Regions from separate parts of the Homo sapiens genome. Here region 1 is reported to be linked to region 2. The links are microRNA targets in miRTarBase. Many come from high-throughput screens and were not tested one by one. Region 2 holds a microRNA gene; the other region holds the end of a gene's coding sequence.

Region 1 (7,171 bases), not on the chromosome of region 2:
GGGAAACATGGTACTGAAGGTCATGCCTATATAATTGATTCCATTTACCACCTCTCATCAATTGTGGTTATTCCTACATTAAATACGGTAGTATACTTTTTAAAAGAGATACTTTTCTGCAAATCTTAGGATGTTCTTCCCAAGGTAAGAAAATGATAATTATAAAAACTAAATTACTATAATGATACTCCTTAAGTAATTACGATTTGGTAGAAGTCTGCTGTTCAAAGCAGCTCCTACTCTAAGCTGGCATTGCTTTCAAGAAGTCCTGTGGAGAACGCCACACACACAAACCCACTACTGGCAAGGGGTGCATTTTAAAGGCCTCTGCTCTCCCACCCCTACACATGCAGTTTAACACATCTGAAAACCAAAATGGCAGCTGGGCACGGTGGCTCACATCTGTAATCCCAGCACTTTGGGAGGCCAAGGTGGAGGGCTCGCTTGAGGCCAGAAGTTTGAGACCAGACTGGCCAACATGGTAAAACCCCATCTCCACTAAAAATACAAAAATTAGCTGGGCGTGGTGTCGGGCACCTGTAGTTCCAGCTATTCAGGAGGCTGAGGAACGAGAATCGCTTGAGCCTGGAAGGTGGAGGTTGCAGTGAGCCAAGATAGCACCACTGCATTCCAGCCTGGGTGACAGAGTGAGATTCTGTCTCCAAAAAAAAAAAAAAAAAAAAAAAAAAAAAAAAAAAACCAAGAAAACAAAAAAAAAGAAAAGAAAACCAAAATGGCTCATGGCCTTTAGCCACAGAAGGCAGCTAAGATAGATGGCCTATGTAGATAAATCAATATACATAGCCTCAACATCTCTAGGCCAGCTAAGCCAATCAGGTCACGCAGGATTCTAAATTTATCTAACAGGTAATTTTTTTTTTTAGACTAATAGGCTAATAGGCTGTCTTACCTAAGTGACCACCCTGAGCACACAGCTCATTCACCAAATGGAGAGTTACACCTCTTATAAGTGGGAGAAGGCATTCCACCTGTTGTTAAAAGACAAAGTGATAGTTTTCATTGTACAAATATCCTAGCAAGAAGCTGAATTTGTGGCGGCTGGGGAGAAGGGAGATTCAGAGAGCAGCTATCACTTACTTGGATACTGCACAATGTTTAATATGAAAAGCCTTGACTGGAGTTAACTGCCACAAAACACGAAGATTGCCCCGTATGCAAAACCTTCCATTTTTGGTAGTAATCTTGAACCCTGGAAAAGCCTATTATCACCTTTCAGTTATAGAAATAAGATGTAAATATGCAAATAACTGTTCCAGAAATAGGTGAAATTACTACTCAACAGTGGCAAGATTTTAAGATTTTCATTTTATTAAAAATATAGCAACATAATAGCAGCATTGTTTGATAAATCTTTACTAGTACCATTTAAAAGTAGTCCTACTCACAAATAACCACCACCTATGCAGCATGTTTATGTTTACATTCCAAACTCTTCCCTTGATAATCTAACACTGTTCTATTAATCTAATCATTAAGGAGGTAATTTTTTAAGCATTAAGTTGATCTACACAGCTACACAGTATACTCAAATTTCATACTTAAATCTATTGTAGAAATCAGAAATTCTTTAGTTTATTCCCCAACAGTGTGTTACCTACCAGTACCCTCAAAATGGTTGAAATCAACCTATTCTTTCAGTGTGATTTTTATGAATTTATACTTACATATGTAGTTAAGAAATTATGTCTAGCAAATAAAAATAAACCAAGAATAGAAGGTACTACTCCTCCATACCAATCCTGGAAAAATAAAATATAGAGGTAAAATATGTGAAATCTCCCAAAAGTTGGCAATTTTAAAATTAAAATGTTAACTAGATATAAATTTAAAAATCAGGCAACAGACTTAAAACCTTTTATAAACATTATATTAAGAACTGTTATATCTGATATAAGCTAATTGTAACAAACTAATTGCTAGAAACTATAAAAGTACCTTAGAATGGAAGAAAGCTAGTTATTAGTTACTAAATCCAACTGACTGAATATAACCAAAGTCATAAATGGCTTAGCGTTTACTTTTAAAATAACGTATTGCCAGGTGCAGTACCTCACACCTGTAATCTCAGCACTTTAGAAGGCTGAGGCAGACAGATTGTTTGAGCCCAGGAGTTTGAGACCAGTCTAGGCAACATGGCAAGATCCTGTCTCTACAAAAAAAATTCTAAAATTAACTGGGCTTGGTGGCACATGTCTGTGGTCCCAGCTATTCAAGAGGCTGAGGTGAGAGGATCATCCATGCCGAGAAAGGTCAAGATTGCAGTGAGCCATGATCGTGTCACTGCACTCCAGCCTGAGTGACAGAGTGAGACCCTGTCTCAAAAAGAAAAGTAATAATAATAATGTATTACTCTTCAGGCAAAACCACCAATAAGAGTGTACTAAAAACAAACTCACCCACAAACCCAAGATTAAGTAGGGAAGTCAATTTTATTTTAAAATTTTATTACATTTATACTAAACTCCTGCTTCCAGAAATATAATTTAGCTCTTTTAAGAGCACTAGCTTTTAAAATTTGAAAATAAACATCTAATTTTAAGTGAAAATTACATTAGTAAATAAACATGAGAAAATAATATATATGTAGTGAAAATAAAAAATATTTAAACACAAGAAACATGGGCACTGCACATTTACTTTGTGGGAATGGCTCTACTTCGTAACGCACCAGTTGAAATCAGATACTGTCTTCCAATGAAAACGTAAATGATTCACTGAAATTATAAGTTATTCAATGCCATCCCTCCAAAGGGATTCATTTTAATTGTTAATTCAACAATAATTAAATCATGCTCTTTATTTCTAACAGATTAAAAAAAAACTTAAAGGCCTATTACTCTACATTATAATTCTTGAATCTACACAGTATCTTCACTTGAGAAGGGAGTTAGATCAGGGTTCTAAGTTTTAAAATAAAGATAGCAACATAGACATAGGAATGACTGAAGGTCTTGAAAATTATTACTATCACAAAATAAATTCTCTTGACCCCCCCCCCCCCGACAAAAAAACCTTTTCATTATAAACGCCAGTGTTTATTTTTAATTGAGCAGGTCAAAATTTAAGCCTCTGGCACTGCCAAAGATCAACATAGCAGGTACTGAACCTCGTGAAGAAAAGAACTTGAAACACAGAGATCACAAGCTGACTAGTGTTTGCAATTATAAGCTAATTAGATAGAAAATAACTAAGATGATAACTGCAGAACTTCAGGATTTAAAAGTTTTGACACAAAACTTATGCACTAGCTTATGAACTGATGCACCATCTTATGATACTAGTTCAGCATACGTTGCTGAAAGGCAACAGAATTTGTCTACAATGATAAATAGCAACTACAACTTAAGGAAGAGAGGGTACTCTATGTAATCAAGCTACAAAAGATAATTACAGAAAGTATGAAGCATAAAATGTCTGTCTTCTTGGCCTTACCTCAAGTTTATCTGACAACATCTACCTGGGATTTAAAAAAAGAAGTCTTAAAGAAAAAAACAAAATACCCTGAAAGAAAAGAATAAACAAATGAAAACATGAGCTCTTTTAAGTGAACAGAGAAAGTATGTCTCAAACAGATACACACGTGCGCATGCGCACACATGGACACACAAGCACACACACACATCCCTCTAGACCCTAGAATGCCTTGCTTCCATAAGCCCATGTAAAAAAAAAGTCAAACCCTAATAACAATCTGATTTGTTCCTCCAGATCTCTTGTATTCCTACTCATTCTTAGTTTTTACAAATCAGTGTTTCAAGATTATAGTACGATTATTTTAAAGCTTAATAAATATCAGCAGAGAAAATAATTAGCAGCAAGAACCAAATTAAATGTTAATTACCAACATAAAGAAACATGTAATAGGTCCAGAGTACAAGAAAACACTCATACTTTAAATGACTTGTTTTATAGACACCACACAAACATGCACTCTCCACGTCACAACAATCTCTATGACAACTAAAATGAGCAGGATAAAACTAAAATGCTTTTTTGAAATGCATAAACAAACATTTTCCTCTAAAATACTTAGCTTTATTAAAGACATGGTACTAAAAATAACAGATTCCAACATTTGCTCTATTTCTACTTATATATCATAAATAAGACAGCTGTTGATGCAAGACACACTCTTTCACAATCTTTCCATATGCACCCAAGCATTCTTGTATCAGAATAAGCTGTTTACCAGCCAACCGTATGTGGCTGAATGATTAAAATGACCATCTATACTTTACATAGTAAAGCATCTTCCAAAATTTTAATGTACACAGTGACAAAAAGGAAAAACAAACAAAAAAAACAGTAATTCTGAACACATGAAGAGTGATTAAGCAGCTTCATAATCAAATCAGGCTTCATTACTTGCAACAAGGGCAACTCTTTCCATTCCCCACTAAATACTAAAGTTTCAATCTTATTAACATTAAAAGAAAACTCAAGTTGAAACCAAGTAACTAACATGCTATTCAGCTTTTTAGATCTAAAAAAGTAACTCTTCCCATGAGGTAAGGCAACTGAGTAATCTGATTGTATTAGATTGCATTAAAATAATTATACTTAACTTTTAATACACTAATTAAAAGGTATTACTTTTTTGGAAATACAACAATAATGAGTTCAGAAACCACAAGTTATAGTACTGGGGAAAAACATTAGCAGTGCTGTCACTTTACTATTTGCATACTTTCTGTAAAAAGTGAGCCTAAGAATGATGGATGACCTGTATCTTAAACTCAAGTAAACGTATCCTTAAACATAAAACCAATAACCTCCCATATACTCCTAAGTCCTTAAGTACAATTTCTGCACATCATTTATGAAAAGATGATTGAGAGGTAATAAGGCCATCCAATGTAGACAACTAAAGGGTTTTCTTCAATTTAAGGAAAATAAGAACATGTTTCATTTTCAATTATCACAGTATAAAACTGATGGTCCCAAAGCTGCATGACTCTAATGTCATTCTTGAAAACAGGACTTCCTTCTCATTTTAGGTGAAATCAGTAAGAAGCTCTTCTGACATATCACTTACACACTTCTCTATGGGTATGCATGAAATATCCATCTAGATTCCATATGAATTGAGAATGACTAGCACATATAAAATTCTAGAAAACAGTATACCACATTGTAGAAGGCACTAAAGCTTCAGCTTGTGCTCCCATAGCCCATTTTGAAAAGCCAGTTTCCTTTTTTATAAGGGCACCTTTGCCACCTACAGCTGACAAGACACACTGCAATATTATTCATAATAAGCTTGGAAATGTCAAGAAAATTTAAAAAGAAATGCTCACTTTGTGGGTAGTCCCAATGATTCTAAACACTGAATACTAATTCATCATTATTAGTATTCAACACGGTTGCTCTTCCTTTTGAAAGAGAACAGTAGCATGCATTGTCAGTTTTTTAATCCACTTATTTAAGCAATTTTAATCTGCAAAACTATTTTAAAGAAAAATTGTCCTAAACAGTGAGCAAAAGAAAACACAATAGTGAGAATTTAACACAATCACAAGTCCTGTGAAGTAAATGTTAAAACTTCTTACATACTTTGCACTTACAAGGGTGTGTATATATTTGCACCAATTTCAAGCACATCATCAAACTGTATATATTGAAATAAAAAAAAAAGTAAAACAATACAAAATTCAGTAACTAGCATTTTTTAAAAGAGCCTCCAATGCTTATCTCCAGTCTTTAGGGATAGTACAAACTTGGATCTTTGATGTTCAATTTATTTGCAATGGTTCTTGGCAAACACTAACAGACCACATGACAAGTGTGTCAGCCACCATGGAAATGCACAGATTTTAGAAGATGAGTTTGGGTAACATCTGTTATTTTCATGATGTCCATGCTTTATTTTCTTACTCAATAACAAGATGGCCACAAAGTCATCTAACAACTGGAAAAGCTGTTAGATCCTATCTTCATGCTCAACTAGATTTCTTTCCTGTTTACATCTTGTTGAGAGAATTAAAAGCTTTGGATTTGATTCCAGCATTGAGTGCAGAGGTACACTTGTCGGTCCTATACTGCTTCTGTTTTGGTAGAGAGGTTTTCTTCATTCAGCTGACAATTCCCATTGTGCTGTATTTTGTTTTCCTCAGTCCTTGGTGCATCCTTGTCATCTACTTCTTTGCTCACACTTGAATCTGGTTCTTTATTGTGCTCTTTCTCCTACAATGAGTAATTAAGGTATGCATTTAATATTTTCCTCAAGAACTGCCTGCTATGACGACAAAAATGTGAAACTTTATCTTTTGCAAATTTAAAAAACTGGGTATGATTTTCTCTCATTACGTTTTCACACAAAATGAATATGCAAACACTATCAATTTCCCCTTTGTGTTCTCATAAAAGATGGACAATCCATGGAAATTAAATTAGAATTGGTGAACAGAAATTTTAAGCAAGTGCTCAATAAATGTTGCTGACAGACTTGAAAAACGGAGACAGATCTATTGAAAGAGTGAAATAATTTCCAAGGATGCCAGGATAGATTTTTAATCTGCAAACCAATGCAGCAAAAATAAGGAAATGTGGAAAAGGAAGTCACTATGCCTCCTGGAAAAGGCTGTTCAAGAGCACTCCAATTTCTACCCTCAATTTAAAAGAGTTAAATGAGAACAAACAGTGCCCGGCACATCGTAAATGCTTAATAAATGTTATCAATGTTATTGATGATGATGATAATCGTCTATCAGTATTACAGTACATAAAACTATAAGATAGATGTTCCAAAATTCATAATTTCCAAATACAAATATACTTTACCAGTGTAAGTAACTTAATTCACAACTACTTGAAGTATTTATCCAAGTGACAAAAAAGCTCACTTGGTGGAATGTGGTTTTCCATTAGGTATTCTAACCCAACAAACCTAATGTTAACTACACAAAGTCTTTTCAAACTTGCTGAAACATAAATTGAGGAAAATGGCATCAGGCAGAAATCCTATCTACATAAAATCAAATACATTTGTTACTGTTGATTTCTTAAATTTTTCTTATTGCATGCCATGTTAGGATTTAACTTAGTTTTTTTAGTTTTAATTGGCTCTTATCTCTTCAACATTTAGTTTTTTTAAATTACCAATTAAATATTTTAAATATTTTAAAATGCCATAAAATGCCAACAATGTACA
Region 2 (7,000 bases):
TACACAAGTAAGTATACCCTTCTTGTGTTCTGGAAATAAGCATGCTTCAGTAATTTGAAGGTCATTCAATATTTTTCGGATTGGTTAATGAAAATAAATCATTTGAAAATGATTTCATTACATTTTGTCTTGAGATTTGAAACCATTTAAAAATTAGTTCCAGTAACTGTCTTCTGTTACCAATTGTATAGGAGATGTTAGAAGCTCTCAAGGCACTTTCAACCTTTTTTGTTGAAAATAGTCTGCGGACTCGAAGAAATTTACGTGGAGATATTGAACGTAAAAGTTTAGCCATCAATGAAGAATTTGTAAGCATTTTCAAGGAAGTGAAGGAGGTATGTAAACTCTTTTCATTTAGCATATATTGAGAACTTACTATTACGCCTGGCTCTGTGCTAAGTATTTTTTTGAATTAGGTTGATATGTTTGCTATTTGTATACTATGCCCAAATAGAAAGCTTAGCTAATTTCTCTTGCTGCATCTAGATCTTTATTTGTATTAATGTGATTTATGAATCTGTGACTTCCACAAATATTAATTCTTAGAAAGTTAACATTGTTCTAGAAGATTATCTTAGGAATTTTAGCTTTTTTAACAAAAAAATTAACATTTCCCTGAATGGCTTTCCAATAGAAATATCCCCTCATTGCATAAACCTCTCTTGGATAACAACTTCTCTACTGGAGATTAATTAGAATTGAGTTACTTTTACTATATCCTAAAATATGAAAATTTCAGATTAAGATCAGTAACTTCAATGTATTAATAATGATTCATCATACTTGAGAGTGTAGTCCACTCACCACAGAGTGAAAATAAATTTTATGTTATTATATCTTTATTATGTAATATTTTATTAGCTGTTTTAATACATTGTAATACTAATATATTTCTATGTGAGTTATGGAAGTGTTGCACATGGTTTCAATGAGTGTTCAATAAAAATAGGTTGTTTTTGACACCTTGGTAGGTTTTTATTGACTGAAGACTAATACTTTGGAAAGGATTTTTTTAAAAAAAATTACATTAGAGATGGACTCTTGCTATGTTGCCTGGGCTGGAGTGTAGTGGCTGTTCCCAGGTATGATCATAGTACACTACAGCATCGAACTCCTGGGCTCACGCAATTCTCCCACCTCAGTTTCCCAAGTAACTGGGACTACAGGTGCCTGCCACCATGCCTGGCTCTTTTAAACATCATTTCCTACTAAAAGGAACAATCTTACCAGTATCAGAAAGCAAAGATGCTATCTGAGACTATTGGATACATGTCAAAAGGACTTTGGAGCTAATGTGAAGAGGATTCTTCTACTGGCCAAACATAAGACTATTTGAACATCAATAAGAGTAACTGCAATTGAATAACACTAGCAATAAAGGGATATTCAGTTTTATAAAGCATTTGCTGTTTTCCTGCGGTCATATTCTCTAAAAGGAATGGACTATTTTCTTTACATTTTTTCTAACACTAGATGTTATTCTTTTTAATCATTTCCAATTTTAAATATGGGATCTCTTGTCATGCCTTGACCAAAAAAATAAAAAATTATGTAACTAAAATAAGGATTTAGCTAACAGAAGAGAATCTTCTTCTTGCTGTATATATGATGTTTGATGTTACTTTTCTTCTTTTCAGGAACTTGAAAGCATAAGCGAAGATGTTCAAGCAATGAGCAACTGTTGTCAAGATATGACAAGTCGCCTACAGGTATTATATAATGGCTAGATTTTGGCATAGTTCCTGATATAAACTTACAAAAATTATTATTGACAAAATGTGTAGATATCTAATCCATAATGCCCTGTAGGAAATTTGGGTATAAATATAATCCTTATTTTTAAAAATTGTAGCTATCTTTGTGTTTCTTTGGATAATGATTTATTAATATTGTTCAATTAACTTTAGAGCATTTATATTTTGGTCTAGCCAGTACAGAGCTAACTACGTAGAATTTTGATAAACCTTTCAATTCCGTAATATTCTAGAAATCTAGGAGTAATGATTTTTTTTAGTAAGAAGCCTTAGGAATAATTTCACACTAAAGCTGTGCCTGATAAAGACCTAGCTTAATTCTGATTTATGCATAACCTTAAAAAATTCTGGGAAAATATGTATACTTTTAGGTCTTTTAATGAAAGCAGTCCTAAACTTATAGTTTGGTAGCAGAATCAGCATTTGACTTAATTAACCTCATTCATCTAATTTTGGAATAGTACATAGAACGGTTTCCTCCTAAGGGCCAATCATGATTATGTCTACTGCCTTCACATTTTAACAGCGAATTTATATCTCTAAGTGTCTCTTGGAACGATTGACATCAACAGTGATTCTAGGAAGAATCATTAATGCATATTCTACAGATTAATCACAGGCTACTTGCATCATCAGTTTGCAGGATGAGTTAATTTCTTGTTTCTCTAAAATTTTATCTTTTCTGGTCTTGTCTAAATTTTGATATTCTTACTAATCTATCAGATATTATTGGCATGTTTATTGTCTCTTAGTCCAATATTTAGATATTTGTTAATTTGACAATATTTAAATAATTATATAATATATACTAATTATTAATGGCCATTTCACATTTTTGGCATATATTTACTTTATTCCTCAGTGGTTGATTTTGTTTGACCCTTCTTTTTCTTTAACTTTATTTCCTTTTCTCCTCTTTTAGCTTCCATGACGTAATGCCTTTTCTCAAATTATACTTTATAAGGTTTTCTATATTGTACTTTTGTGTTTTTTAAATAACATTATGCTTTGTTATATTAGACTACTCAGTTTCTGATCTTTAGTGATAGTATCTCTTATTTTTTAATTTGTATCCTTAATTATGTTTTTATACTTTTCATCATAGAGAGATTTAAATATAAAAAGATCATAGTATTTTTATTTGTGCTATTTTTCAAACAGTTTATAAATATTTTAAATTACAACCAAAGTGTCTCTTTCTGTTTTGTCCTTTGTATTTTTTTTTTTTTTTTTTGAGACAGAGTCTCGCTGTATCCTTAGTGGCGTGATCTCGGCTCATAGCAACTTCCACCTTCTGAGTTCAAACAATTCTGCCTCAGCCTCCCAAGTAGCTAGGATTACAGGCGCCTGACACCATGCCTGGCTGATTTTTGTGTTTTTAGTAGACACAGGATTTCGCCAGGTTGTCCAGGGTGGTCTCGAACTCCTGACCTCAAGTGATTCACCTACCTCGGCCTTCCAAAGTGCTGGGATTACAGACATGAGCCACCATGCCCGGCCAGTCCTTTATATTTTCTTTGCACCCACCTCACATCCTGTTTTTTCTTCTGCAGTGGCATGGGCCTATTTTCTTTCTTTATTCAGATCAACTTTATTGAGGAATAATTTATGAATGGTAATAAACTGCATCCATTCAAAGTGTTCAAATTGATAGGCTTGGCATTTTTATATGCCTGTGAAACAACAACTATAATCAAGATACAGAACATTTTTATCACATATAAAAGATTGCCTCATAGCTTTCTGATTGAATATTTAAAAATATTTAATACTGCCTATTGTTTACATTTGTTTTTGATCCACATATCATTTTTAATAGTAGGAGGTCCATGATTTTGAAAGTTTTGTTTATTCCTTAAAATTTTGCTTAAAGCTAATTTATTTGGATATAGCACTATTGGAATTCTAATAGTATACATTCATAATATCAACTCTAATGTTTTTAAGTTATTCATAAAGAAAAGTGTTTCTTAGAGTATCCTCACTTTCCCTTTTTCTTATAGAATGTTGTTATAATGATTCATTTAATTATTTAATATTTTCTGAAATGCTTTGACTATGGTACCTTTTAGAAATTATTAGAAAACATTTAAAAATGTAATCAGTCATTTTATATATGTTAATATTTATTCCTTTGTGGTTTTCCTTGCATATGTTTAAATAATAAACATGCATTTAGATGCATATGTTTATTATTAACTCAAAAATAATCATCTTTAACATTTAAGATAAATGGAGATTGAGGTTAATCTTCATTAATATTATTAAATATTACTTTGGAATTCTTACCATAGTTTATAAATGAAAAAATCAGGAAATATGCAAAAAAATTAGCAAATTCTTATTATATAACATTGTGCTAAATTATCATATTTCATTGATTAATAAATGGTGTTGATTGTAAGGTGCACCCTCAATAACGACTAGCCTAAAAAGCTAGTAAAGGTTTTTTGATGTTGATTTTGTGAAGCATTCTTTTTTTCAGAAATATTAAAATGTAAACATATCTTTGACTTGAGGGGATACTATATTTTAAAAATTGCACAAGGCAAGACTGTACAAGGGTGGAAATGGAACTTTAGCATTTAAGAAGTATGAGCATTTGAAGAACTTATTGGCAGTCTAATAATTCTAAAAGAATATTTTGGGAGCTATCATGTTGAGCTCCATTCCTTAAAAGTCAGTGAAATGGCTGGGCGTGGTGGCTCACACCTGTAATCTCAGCATTTTGGGAGGCTGAGGCAGAATGATCCTTTGTGACCAGCCTGGGCAACATAGCAAGACCCCATCTCTACCAAAAACTTTTAATAAGTTAGCCAGGCATGGTGGCACATGCCTATAGTCCCAGCTATTCTAGAGGCTTAGGTGGGAGGATTGCTTGGGCCCAGGAGGTCAAGGCTGCAGTGACTCAAGATTGCACCACCATACTCCAGGCTGGGTGACAGAGTGAGACCCTGCCTCTTTAAAAAAAAAAAAAAAAGATAAGGGATATGCAAAATTATCTAGGTTCAAATTGTTTTCTTAAAAAATCTATTTCCTGGGAACATACACTCAAAATAGCTTCATTTGAGGTGGCAATCAGGCTCTGTTATTGACAGCATACCTAGAAAGCAATAAGACAGAGAATTTCCCTCACAGTCTGAAAACTGAGTTTGTAGAGGATTAGGCCTCTAAGAACCCAGAACTGGAGGTGTCTAGGTCTAAGGCAGCTCTAGAAAGAAACCGCAGTAGCAGAAGCTTGACTCTTTATTGTGGTATTCCAACATGAAAATGACCCAGTGTCTTCAGGTGTTTGCTCTGGTATTTTCTCTTTAACAGACTGATTCACCTTCTATTTTATGTGTTTTTCTCCACTTTACTAATGACTTAATTTATGCATCTTTCTGGCTCATTTAATATTTCTTCAAGGCACAGACCTTGTTTCTCTACGTGCCTCATGACTACTTCTCTTCTTATTGTTTATTGCCTTATTTTTGTAAATATTCCCTAGTTCAGATATTTGAGAGAGAATCTCATTGTCTTTTGTTTAAAGCCACTTCATGAATGTTTTCTAATCTTGGATAAGATGCTTTTTTAATTGACTTTCCACTTTTGATCAACTCTGGCTTAGGGAAGGGAGAATTGCTTAGAATGAAAGTTGATTAGGAACAGCCTTGTGTCCTTTAGATGGGGCTAGCTCTGATCCTCACCAAAAACTTATATGGCAGGTAGTTTGTATATTACAACTTTCAAACTTTTACCTCCATCTTATACATTTCTATTGAGCTCCACACTAGCATTTCAGTGACTTAGTTAACAACCCCATGTAAAGGTTGCATGGTATCTCAGTTCAACACGTCCATACCTGAAGTCATGTTCTTCATTCTTAACTTGTTTTTCCAGTGCTTCTGTTGCACTAAAAAGCATCATGAACTATTAAGTTCCTTTGTCAGTATCTGGATACCTTTTTCTTTCTTGTAAGCCTTAGCATTATGTGTATATTAAGAACTGAGTGTGTTCCTCCAGTGGATGAGCCTTGAAACATCTACGTATTTCATTTTATTGTGCTTTTGAGTTCCATAGAGTGATCTCATTTGTTTTAAGTCTAAATTGCAGTAAGTGGTAGTATTTGTTTTCTGAAATATAATAAAATTGGAATTTACTTATATTAGATATGTTTATAATTTTAGGCAGCAAAGGAACAGACTCAAGATTTAATAGTAAAAACCACTAAGCTTCAATCTGAAAGGTAAGTTTTTCTTCATACAACCACCTTTTCAATAATTTGGAGATTGGAGTCAAAGAAAATTATATATAACTCCAAATCAGAATTAAAGCAGAATAATAAAAAACATGGTTCATAAGGTCCTAAACTATTATATTACCCAATAGTAACTTAAGCATAAAGACAGTAGTTTAGGAGCAATAAACTTGACATTGAGGTTGAGAGATTATTCCTTCTTTGGAAGAGAGGTGATGATGTATCGTTATTGTTTGCTGTGGAGTTCAGAAATGATGCTTTTTAAAATGTAAATGTTTTCAGATTTTTAATAGTTTTATTACTTTTTTTTCACAATCATTGTCTTTTATTTTTAAGCTATGATATATCCTCTCTGGTATAATTAAGAGTTAATTGTATAAATTCTCCTTGTAGTTTATACAATAGGTATACTATTGGTTGATTGAATGAATGAGTGAGTGAGTGAATAAAGGTGAGTACAGTCTGGATTTGTGTAATGTGTGGTGTTCAGTATTGCTAAAACTCATAGCAATTATGCTAAAACTCATTAACTGCATCTCTCATGTGTGGAGTAGTATAGGGGGGGAGAAGCATTATATTATGATGCAGTATACTTGTCTCCTGCTCAGTAGTTGGGTACATCACTTAAACCTTTTAGTATTCTAGGTATTTCATCAGTAATATGGAGATATTACCACTTTAACTGCTGATTTTGGGGTAGGTCAGTATACTATAGTATAGACCACAGGTTATCAAACTATGGCCACAGGCCAAATCCAGCTCAACACCTGCTTTTGTAAATGCAGCTTTATTGGAACACAGCTATGGTTGTGTTTACATACTGTCTATGGCTGCTTTTACCCTACTGCAGTAGAGTCGTGTGGTTACAACAGAGACCATATGTGGCCTACAAAGCCTAAAATATGTACTATCAAGATTTTTACAGAAAAAGTCTGTGACTTCTGATCCAACTAGTGTTTTTTTGTAGTTCAGGTCAAGATCAATGGGTTGTAAATTATGATTTATC

What was found. Region 2 holds the annotated microRNA hsa-miR-4305 (CCUAGACACCUCCAGUUC, at 4,936-4,953, opposite strand). A microRNA usually pairs through its seed, bases 2 to 8, with sites in the 3' UTR of a target mRNA and lowers its output. Matches are read on the target gene's strand: a 7mer-m8 pairs with bases 2 to 8, a 7mer-A1 pairs with bases 2 to 7 and ends in A, and an 8mer does both.
Region 1: the mRNA of SREK1 is a reported target of hsa-miR-4305. Seed matches in the 3' UTR shown: 7mer-A1 at 3,647-3,653.

What each region holds. Positions count from the first base shown.
Region 1 is chr5:66,177,752-66,184,922 of GRCh38, reverse strand. It overlaps SREK1 (splicing regulatory glutamic acid and lysine rich protein 1), which reads right to left. Exons shown (of 12, transcript NM_001077199.3): 12 at 1,308-6,204. The coding sequence ends at 6,055. Among named protein-coding and RNA genes, the nearest start is that of LINC02065, 28 kb to the left of the region's middle.
Region 2 is chr13:39,659,173-39,666,172 of GRCh38, forward strand. MIR4305 (microRNA 4305) reads right to left here and starts at 4,963; the gene lies at 4,862-4,963. It overlaps COG6 (component of oligomeric golgi complex 6), which reads left to right. Exons shown (of 19, transcript NM_020751.3): 2 at 192-335; 3 at 1,638-1,709; 4 at 5,924-5,982.